Homo sapiens: one gene and its partners. The protein of the gene in region 3 interacts with the protein of the main gene of each other region in a biochemical or structural test. Each region holds a gene or a part of one and is shown on either strand. Other genes may lie near its edges.

What was found.
Region 1: the proteins of TRIM25 (region 3) and UBE2D3 form a complex in vitro, tested with the Homo sapiens proteins (3 studies listed by BioGRID).
Region 2: the proteins of TRIM25 (region 3) and UBE2D1 form a complex in vitro, tested with the Homo sapiens proteins (8 studies listed by BioGRID).

What each region holds. Positions count from the first base shown.
Region 1 is NC_000004.12:102,821,052-102,824,707, reverse strand, and holds part of UBE2D3 (ubiquitin-conjugating enzyme E2 D3), read left to right. Parts: intron 1-3,656. UniProt on the Homo sapiens protein: Accepts ubiquitin from the E1 complex and catalyzes its covalent attachment to other proteins. In vitro catalyzes 'Lys-11'-, as well as 'Lys-48'-linked polyubiquitination.
Region 2 is NC_000010.11:58,362,350-58,366,005, forward strand, and holds part of UBE2D1 (ubiquitin-conjugating enzyme E2 D1), read left to right. Parts: intron 1-1,259; coding exon 1,260-1,337; intron 1,338-2,421; coding exon 2,422-2,527; intron 2,528-3,656.
Region 3 is NC_000017.11:56,907,476-56,911,131, reverse strand, and holds part of TRIM25 (E3 ubiquitin/ISG15 ligase TRIM25), read left to right. Parts: intron 1-2,568; coding exon 2,569-2,664; intron 2,665-3,656.

The DNA of each region.
Region 1 (3,656 bases), on a different chromosome or scaffold from region 3:
AACACGTTAAAGGAAGGCCTCTGATTTTTTTTCTCTTACAGGTCATACCCAGCTGCTGTGACACCACTTAAATGATTTAAAAGCTTTAGAGAGACAATATAACAGTGGTTAAGAGTGTAAACATTGGAGCAGAAATGCTCCAGTTAGAATTCTAGCTCTGGGCAAGTTTATGTGCCTCTATAAGAAGGGTATCTGTTGTAATATGAACAATAAATGACTGTGTGCCTAATATGTACCAGGCACTGTTTTAGACATTGGGGTGGCAGCAGTGAACAAAACAAATTTTAAGTTCCTAGATTTGTTTTGACGATTAAATGGATTAATGTGCAAATTTGAACAGGCTCTTGGCACATGACACTCCTAGTTATTACTGCTATTTTAATATCACAATTTATAATTTTTAAAAATCGTTTTTGTTTAAGAACTTTGATTTCTAGTTTAGTACTCTTAGTTAACCAGGTTGTCTCCTTTTGTAAATATTTTGAAGATTTATGTAATATAGACACAACATAAAAACTTGGCATATTGGAAAAACCAGTGTTTATGTGAACATTATTGATTCAACTTACAGAAACTTTGACGTGTGCATGTGGTTTGGTTTTTCAGCTGTTAATGTTAAAATCACATGAGGCAACTTTCAAACATTCCACATCCAACAATTTTAGTGAGTGGACAGCTCTGAACTGGAATGCTCTTCGGTTTAGGCACCTCTTCTAGAAATATGGGGTCAAGTAGCCATTGATGTCAGTATGGTATGCTTGTGTTACGTACCTATTTCGAATTTATTCTTGTCTGAAGGTCCCACATTTCAAGTATTATGATATATCTGTATTCCTCGTTAATATTTTACTGAAATGATTATTGGAATAGTTTTAACCTTTAGTCCATTTGATCGAGCTTTTGAATTTATACTTTGCTTCAGCTGTGTTCTTGGAGTAAGTTTTTTGACTGTTAGACCAATCAACTTTTTTCCTGTATTCTTTATTTGAACGAGCTGTAATATGGTCTTAAATAGGGCTATTAAACAACAGGAGTTAAAAGTGGCACTCCAAGTTGATTGGTATTGAGAGCTGTAGACAATTTTACCACTCCCATTAAACAGGGACTACAATATATGTGTTTTAGGGACGTTTGAAGATAAATATGTGAACCAAGCCTAAAAGAATAGCTCATGTTTTCATTGTATACACCCTGTTAAGTTTTCGTAAGGGTTTTTATTTCTGGAAGTATGACTTTAGTGTTTATATATGATTATAAGCAAGCGGCTAGCAGGGAAACCATGGGTAAAGGGTTAAAAAACTCTCATTTGATCTTCGTTTCCCTCCTACCACCACTTCCACTGAGATAATTTCAAGATTATCTCCATCTCGAAATTGAAAAACTTAGGCATAGAGGTTAAGAAGATGACCCAGGTTCATGTTGTGACAGTTGGGATTAGAACCTAGGCAGCCTGGTCCAGAGTATGTGCTCTTAACAACTACAGTTTGATATCATCCTTTAGTTTTTTTTTGTCATTCAGAACGGTTTACTTTTGCATATAGTATTATCTATTACAGTAGTTAAGACAATGCAGTCTCATCTAAACCCTAACTCATTTAATCCTCAAGACAACCATGTGGGATAGATGTGAGAATTTTATAGATGAAGTAACAGGCTCAGAGAAATAGTCGTCTAGTCACACAACTAGTAAGTGACTGGGATTCAAATCAGATAGGCACCAAAAGCTCAAGCTCTTTTTTGAACCATTTCAATTCCTTTTTTTGTTGTTGTTGGAGACGGAGTCTCACTGTGTTACCCAGGCTGGAGTGCAGTGGCGCGATCTCAGCTCACTGCAAGCTCTGCCTTCTGGGTTCACGCCATTCTCCTGCCTCAGCCTCCTGAGTAGCTGGGACTACAGGCGCCCACCACCACCCCCGGCTAATTTTTTTGTTTTTTTAGTAGAGGCAGGGTTTCACCGTGTTAACCAGGATGGTCTTGATCTCCTGACCTCGTGATCCACCCGCCTCAGCCTCCCAAAGTGCTGGGATTACAGGCGTGAGCCACCACGTGGCCTGGCCCTTCAATTCCTGTTTTATAATGTATGTGATTTTAGTTTGTTACCTGAAATAAGCTGCTTTGCTCTCCCACTTATACATCTAAGTAATTGGGAGTTAGCTTTACTCTTAGGTTATAGCTAATTTGTGAGTTAAGATTTTGGCTAATAATATTTTGAAAGTAGAAGTGGATTTAATTCTTTTGGGGTAGTCTCTTCAAGCACTGAAAACTAACATGTGCCAGTTAACTGCTTAGGATGTCTTAGAGTGAACAAAATATATTTATTGTCCCCAACTAGTATATAGGCTGGGTAAACTGTCTTGCATGTGTTTCATATATGGTCCTCAAAGCTTGTTGATAGCCAGCTCACTTTCTGTGTAGGATAGTTGTGACTGAAGGATGCTGATAATAATAGGACCTCAGTATTTGTTTAATTTGAAAAAGGATGCATTACTGACACTGCATACTTTTCTTTCATCATGCTCATCTGCAGTGTTGATTCTAGTTTTTGTTATTTATACAAATAAAAAGTTGAATGCTCCATCACTGGGATGAACTACTGTGTCACTAGATTGCTCTGTCAAACTTTGCCCCTGAGTTTAGGTGACCCTTTTTATCCAAGACAGGCAATCTTTGAGGATTCTCCACAGCATGTTGCTATAATCTATCTATTAAAAAAGAAACTAGGTTCGTAACACTGAGATAAAAAAATGTTTCAGATTAAAATCTCAAACCTAGGTTGGTTTTTGCATTCTTTTTTTAAATAGCAGTTTTCTTGTATCTGTTAGCGTATAGAAGAGCTTACTGAATATTATATATTGTTGGGTGTGACATGAATTACATTTATATTCCAGAACATTTGGAGTTTTTAAAAAAATTTTGTGGGTACATAGTTGGTGTATATATTTATGGGTTGCATGAAATATTTTGATACAGGTATGCAATGCATAATCACATCAGGGTAAATGGGGTATATACCTCGAGCATTTATCCTTTGTGTTACAATCCAGTTATACTTGTTTACTTATTTTTAAATGTCAGATTGTTTAGAATTTAAAAAAAAAAATACAGCTGCATGGGGGTCTTAGACTTACTAAATCATTTTCCCTGGAAACACATAATTTTGAAAATTTTCTAGGTGATTCTGAAGCTCCTCTCTGATTAAGAACCACAGATACAAGGGAGTAAAGGTCCTAATCTGCATTAGACGTAGTATTCTAGTCCCAGGGAATAAATGAGGAAGATGGTCCTTATCTATGGTAATCTCTGCGTTCAGTGGTGAAAATAAGCATGTAAACACATGAATAGTTGTTTGTCACTTTGTAATTTACCTTTCAAGAATATTAGATCTAGTAGGGGAGGTATTTAAAATAAATTTTCTATACTGTATTTTTTGTACTAGTATTATTACAATGTGATTTGTCTTTTATTATAATGACTTAATTCCCCTTGCCAAAACCAGTATTTTGAAATTAATGAAATAAAACTCTCCATTCTTGGAAATGTTGTGGTCTTGAGCTTGCTACCATAGCAGTGTTATTTCATAATTAAAAATGAATGCATTCACCAAATATCTTACTGCCCAGTTTCTCTTATTAGATAAGATTTATTCAGAATTGTAT
Region 2 (3,656 bases), on a different chromosome or scaffold from region 3:
CCAAAACTACTGAATTTCAAAGCAGTACTCTGGGCAGTTGTCTCAAATTATTGTTTTATTAAGTTTGTTTTTCTAAAAAGGCAAAATACAATGTATTTATATAACAACTTTCAATAAGAATCCATTTATTTCTGTTTGTTTTTAATTAGTTACTAAGAACCTTCAAAATACTCTCATTTAAAGGCCCACCCTTACCTTTTGAATTATGGCCTTTCACAAATATTTTTTAGGTGAATCACATGTAACAAATGGTTATAATCATGTTATTCATAACTCCCTTACTTTAGTAATGTAAATATTTACAGTACTCTGGACCATATCTGTCATTGTAATTTATCTTCATTTTCTATATTTCTTACAATTTTTGATAAACTAGAATTGTTTAAACAATATATATAGTAAGAATTATTATACAGGAAAATCCTCTAGCATATATGTGGAAACTTAACGAGAAAGTAATGAGTCTTGGTGTTATTACCAGAATGCTAATATAACATGATATATTTAATTAAATATGAAAGAATTAAAATAGAATTGTAGGTATAGTTTGCTAGCATTTTCTTTTTTTAAAATTTTTTTGCTTGTAATGTTATATTTTCTAATGGCTATAAAGAAACATGGTCAAATTTAAATTTCTCTAGTAAAGTTGATTCCCAATTTGATAGTAGCATGAATATATAATTTTGTTTTGGATTTTTTTGGGTTCTCTACATTATTTTATAAATAATTACTAAACGAAGATTTGGCACATAAATTGTGTAGCAGGGTCCTTAGCATTTTCTTTTCACGACAGCCTCTTCAGTTCATCTCCATTCTTGGTCATCAAGTGAACATCAGAACTTAAGTTTTACTATCCTCAACCCTTTTTCAAAAAAAATACTGATTACGGCTGCAGAAAATGATCTTTTCCCACAGCAGTCGTGTGTATACTGATCTTTAACAATTTGTACTCATAACCAGATTTGTTTGGACAAGTCACAGCACTGTGTGTGTCCTGTTTTTGTTTTGTTTTAAATTTTATGATGTCGGCATAGTTGTTGGAAAATCCTCCTTCGTACCTGCAGAGAAACCTGTTCTCAAAGTAAATGATTTGAACTTATGACAAAATGGTTGCATTTTTTTCATATTGGTAATATTTAATGAAATTATTTTAAACATGATGGCATTTTTTTCAAACTGATAATATTTGGGGGAAATAATTTTGTTGTTATAAATAAATATAGTAATCAAATGCTGATGCAAATCTTTTGTAATTTCAGCCTGATAGCGCATATCAAGGTGGAGTCTTCTTTCTCACTGTACATTTTCCGACAGATTATCCTTTTAAACCACCAAAGGTATTTTTATTTTTATGATTGATGTGACTCCCATGTAAGAGATTTTATTCTTTATCTAGAGCTCATTTGATTATCTAGAGCTCATTTGATATGTCAAAGACTGTGGGGAGGTTAGCATTTTCAAACTGTTTTGTAAAAACTACTGAATCTAAAATCTGATTTCTTATTGAAATACTGTATTAAGTCTATAAAACAAAAGTCAGTACGTGTCATGCTATAAATTAAATTCCTTGCTTTTCTTTTCCTTCTTATTGGATATGTGTAGTTTGGGACGTTTTTATGATTAAGAGTCAGACTTTTCTATTCATGGGATTATCCTTACAAAGTTGATCATTCTTTCTCTGTTTTTTTTTTTTAAGTATTCAATAAACATTCACCGAGTACCTACTGTGTTCTTCTACACTGGGGAATCCGAAAGTAAATATGAAGCAGTCCCTTAATTTAGTATGGTAGGAGAGAGAAACACATGTTAGATTTAGATTTGCTCTAAAGAGGAAACAAATGATGGGGATATCAGGGAGGGGAAAAGTGGGCAGATTTTGTCACTCAGGATATAATTATTTTAAATAGTTAAAAACAGATTAACATTGTATTTATGAAATGGTATGACAACTCTTGTGGAAAATTAGGATTCTTAATGGATTTCTTAGCTGAGACGCCTCAACTTTGCCCTGAAACAGCGTCAGCACCCTGGTTTTAGATCCAAATGTTACTTCCAGGTATCACCAATAATCAAATTAAGAAAAGGATTACTTCTACATATGATGGAAGCCATGGTTAATTACTTTAGATGCTGCTCAACCAGTCATACCGGCTACTAGAGACTTATTTATTACACTGTCCAAAATACTCTTCAGTTCCTTTGAGGGCAAAAGAAGGAAGCTGACTTGTTTGTGTTCACATTCTCACTAGCTAGAACTGTGTGTAGCACAAAGTAGATAATTATTTGATTTGTGTTGATGACTTTTCTCCTCTAAAGTTATGTAAAGTTGAGGATATTTTACCCTAGAGCAAATTGGTTCTGTTTTATTCATAGTTGATTCAAAGGTGATTGTCATATTTTGTTGTTTTGTTTTATGTTTAGATTGCTTTCACAACAAAAATTTACCATCCAAACATAAACAGTAATGGAAGTATTTGTCTCGATATTCTGAGGTCACAATGGTCACCAGCTCTGACTGTATCAAAAGGTAATTTCATTGATCAGGTTTGAAACAGTTGATAACAGTGAGACAGGAAAAATACAGCAGAATTACCTATGGACTAAAGTTTTAAAACAACAATCAACTGTGCTTTCTCCTGTTTTGATTTTGTTTTGCTCTCTTTGCTCTTATGTTACTATGGCTTTTGGCAGTTAGCTTTGGTTGAGGGGAGTGTGGATGGACAAATCTAAATGATGAAATGAGAAAAAACCTTAAAATATCAGAGCTAGAAATTTGGGGATAAACCTATTGATATTTTATCCTTTTAGCTTGGGTGTTGTCTTTTAAAAAAGAGAGAGTGCCCGGGCACTGTGGCTCATGCCTGTTATTCTAACACTTTGGAAGGCTGAAGTGGAGGATTGCTTGAGCCCGAGTTCGAGACCGGCCTGGGCAACATAGGAGACCCCATCTCTGCAAAAGAAGAGAGAGAATAAGAGATAGTAAAAGGAAGATTTTGGGACTGGTTGTCCCATTCATTAAATGGAAATGTTGACAATAATAAAGCTTTACAGCTGTTTTACTTCATCCAAGAATAAAATACCAGATTTGATTGATAAATGATTTAAGATGAAAGACATTTCACACTGTAGGATAATGCAGTACATATAGCATGTTAGTCTAAACTTCGAATAATCAGTAGCATCATTATAGTGACTGACACAAGATCTGTGCTGATTCTCAACTTTTACAGGGGTATAGCTGTTCTTTGCTGGATTATCAGGTGTATACATAGGCATCTCAAGCCATTTTATTTCATTAGCCACTGCTACTTACTGTGCTAGCACTCTTAATTTATGTCTTGTTTCTCTGAAAGAAGAGAACCTGACAGTTGGAAAATACTGTTTAGGTTAGAAGTAGCTGCACTGAAGCAACCATCAAGTTTTCCGTTTTTATAAAATTGAAGAAAATGTTTCTCTTGAAGGGATTTATGGAAGCAATCTGTACTCATTTTTTATTTTTAATAATTGCTACTTGAATATACAGCATGTTTTTAAAAGTAATAAGGTTTATAGGAAGCAGGGTCCACAGCCGTAGCTCTTTCAAATATTAGATAAATAATAGCTCTTTCAGTTCAATTATTTATGAACGATAGTTTTTCTGACCTAAGATGCTCATC
Region 3 (3,656 bases):
ACACCCAGCTAATATTTTAAAACATTTTTTGTAGAGACGGGATCTCACTATGTTGTCCAGGCTGGTCTTGAACTCCCAACCTCAAGGGATCCTCCCACTTCAGCCTCCTGAAGTGCTGGGATTACAGGCGTGAGCCAGGAGCCTGGCCTAAACTCTGCTGTTTAATCCTAACAACAGGCCTTCCTCTGCCAACACCTACCCCCCTGTCCTGACTTGCTGAGTCCTATAACAGGTCTGCTTTTTGAGCCCTGCTACTGCTGCTCATCACTGTTGGCAGAGCCAGTCTCAGCTGGGCAATGCCCTTAGCCTCGGGGGCTGGGTTGCCTTGGCCACTGGTGGGGTCGGACTTGAGACTCTGGTGCCTCCCATGTGGAAGACCCAAGTCTCTAGTCTGTGAAGGGATCCTCAGGATTTCAAAAAGTCCTTTGCCTTTGATTAGGGGATTATTGCTGCTACCAAAGTTTTTGGGTCACTTTCCTTTGGTCTGGAGTCGTGTGGGCACCATTCATGATGAGGGTACTGCCGCATGTGTTTGATTAATGGTGTATCAAATCTTTCAAAATATAGGGCTCAGGGTGTAGTGCTATGAGCAGCTCTTGAAAGTGAAGCAGTTGGCAGCCTTGGGGTGTTCTGAGGTCTCTTCTTGCTCTGAGGCCAGCAAGGCCGGATGTATGTAGGCCTGGTCTTTGGCCCACACCTTATCTTGGCCACTGTTAGAGGCCAGGTCGAAGGGCAGTGTCACAGAGGTCAAGTTTGAAACATCATGAGCAGCTTGGGCTTTTCGGATTGAGTTAGTGTGGCCTTGGTCCCTGCCTCCAACCCCTACATGTGACTGTCACTGGGTTGTTCAAATCTAGATTCAAGATCAGGTTCCGCCCAGAATATCTTGGGTGGAGTTGAAGAGTCTGGGAAGTGGAAGAGAGAGCCAGAGTATGTTGAGCCTGCTAGTTACGGGAAGGAAATTTTTTTTTTCTAGAAATCTCCAGCATGCTCAGTTTGGGCATGTGTCTATGATTTTAATATCGGGATCTTAGCTGTGCCAGTTACTAGTAGTGTAGCTGGGGCAAGTCACTTAATTGTTCTGTGCCTCAGTGTCCTTGTCTGTAAAGGCTGGGTAATTCCTACCTCATAGTGTTGTTCTTAGCTTTAAGTAAGTTAATACAGGTAAAGCACTAGAACAGTGCCTGGCATACAGTAAGTGCATAATAAATACTGGCTGCTGCTGTTATGGTGGTGGTGATTTTCCTTCCCATTTCTGTGCAGTATTCATCTGAGCAGGGAGGTAGGAGACTCAGATATTGATTATGAAAATTAATTGAAATCAGATGAGGATATTAGCTTCCTTCATATACAGTTTGCCTTTGTTTCTGGAGGTGGCTAGGACTGAGCAGATTTGCACCTGGGCTTCAGCCCCTGTGAGCTACTTCATCTTTTTTTTTTTTTTTTTGAGACAGGGTCTCACTTTGTCACCCAGGCTGGAGTGCAGTGATGCCATCTCAGCTCACTGCAGGCTCAACCTCCCGGAATCAAGCGATCCTCCTGCCTCAGCCCCCTAAGTAGCTGGGACTACAGGTGTGCACCACCACACCTGGCTAATTTTTGTATTTTTAGTAGAGACAGGGTTTTGCCATGTTGCCCAAGCTGGTCTCGAACTCCTGAGAGCAAATGATCCACCTGCCTGGGCCTCCTAAAGTGCTAGGATTACAGGCATGAGCCACTGCGCCTGGCTGGCTGATTCATCTTATTCCCAGCCCTTGGTGGTCCCAGTCTGCAGTGAGCCTTGGACTCTGATTTCTGTCTCCCTGCCCTGTGAGGCTGACAAAGGCTCCCAGCCTTGTTCTGGGATTGGCAGATGCCTCTGGAGAGAACATCCTAGATATCAGGCTTATCTCTCTGGGCCCCCTTCCCCCTTCTCCTGGACCTTGACTTCTTAATCCTCTGCTTGATTGGCTCTCCAGCATCTTTTAGCAGATCTCCCCGCTGCCCCATTATTTGGACTGCTTTCCTGGCTGTTTGCAGTGGGAGGATTGGTCTGAGTGGCCCCACCTGCCATTACCGAAGCAGCTGTCCCAGCTCGTTCTGTTCCTGTGTGAGCTTGGCCACCTTTCTGTCCTCCTTGCTTGAGTTTCATTGGCTGTAAAATGGGTAATTAGAGAAAAACTCATAATAATATAAGCTGGCATTTAGTATGTTTTTCCTAAGATCCAGGCATTGGGCTGAGTACTTACATTGTTTCAATTAATCCTCCCAATAGCCCTGTGAGCTGGGGACAGTTGTATCTATTTTGTGTCCAAGAAAACTGAGGTGAAGGACACAGTTGCACAGCTGGGAGTTGGGACTGGAACCCTGGTCTGTACTGTCCTCTGAAAAGGATGAAGGGAAGTAGTAAGTATTAGAATGCTTCAAAAAGCTCCAAGCAGGCAAGACTCGGGTGACAGGACTTGGGGTGGCAAGACTTGGGTGGAGTGGAAGAGGAAGGAATCTATCCTGTGGGATAGTTCCAGGGATGGCTTCTGGTGGGGCTGGGCTGAAGAGGTGCATTCTCAACCTCATTTGTTTTCCCTGCAGGCCACCCTGAGGCACAAACTAACTGTCATGTACAGTCAGATCAACGGGGCGTCGAGAGCACTGGATGATGTGAGAAACAGGCAGCAGGATGTGCGGGTGAGTGGCAGGGCTCTCCAAGGCCAGCCCTGCCCTGTGGCTTCGCTCAGCTTCCACGCGGGATGGGCGTGGCTCTGACCATGACAAGGCTGGTGTTGGGTGCACTCACAGTGTCAGGATGAAACATCAACCTTGCAAAGCATGCAGACAGCTGTGTGTCTGAGAGAGATCCTTTGCAAACCCAAACCAAAAATTACCTATAAGCCCAACTGTGGGGGAAATCATTATAAATTAGGATTAAAAAGTAGTAATTCAGAAAAATGGTTATGATATAAAGTGGGAGAAAAAGAGGAAGCAAAAGTATATAGCTCATAGGGTTGCATCTATTTACAAAAAGGAAGTATATTAGTTTCATAGGGCTACTGTGACAAATTGCCAGAAACTTGGTGGCTTACAACAACAGAAATGTATTCTGGCAGAGTTCTGGAGGCCAGAAGTCCAAAATCAAGATGTTGGCGTGGCCACACTCCCGAAGTCTCTAGGGGAGAACCCTTCTTTGCTTCTTACAGTTTCTGGTGGCTCAGGCATTCCTTGGCTTTTGACTGCATCACTCTGATCTCTGCCTCTGTCTTCACATACCTGTCTCTTCTTCCCTTAGTGTCTTCCATCTCCAATAAGAACCCTTGTCATTGGATTTAGGGAGCACCTAGGTAATCTATGATGATCGAATCTCAAGATCTTTAATTGCATCTGCAAAGACCTCTTTCCTAAGTAAGATTACAGTCACAGGTTCTGGTATATGGACATGTCTTTTGGGGGCCCAGCATTCAACCCATTACAGAGAGCATGGAAAGAAACTGAAAGGGAATATTATAGAAGGATCATAGTGGAAGTGTTGGAGTGGTAAATTAGGAATGGTTTTGTTCCCCCTGTTTTTCAGATTTTCGATACGTTTAAATTGCTTTTAAATGGAAAGATCAGATTTTTACCCTTTTTCAGAGCTGCAGCACCAGTTTTATTGCAGCAGTTATGGTTTCATTAGATGAGATCTA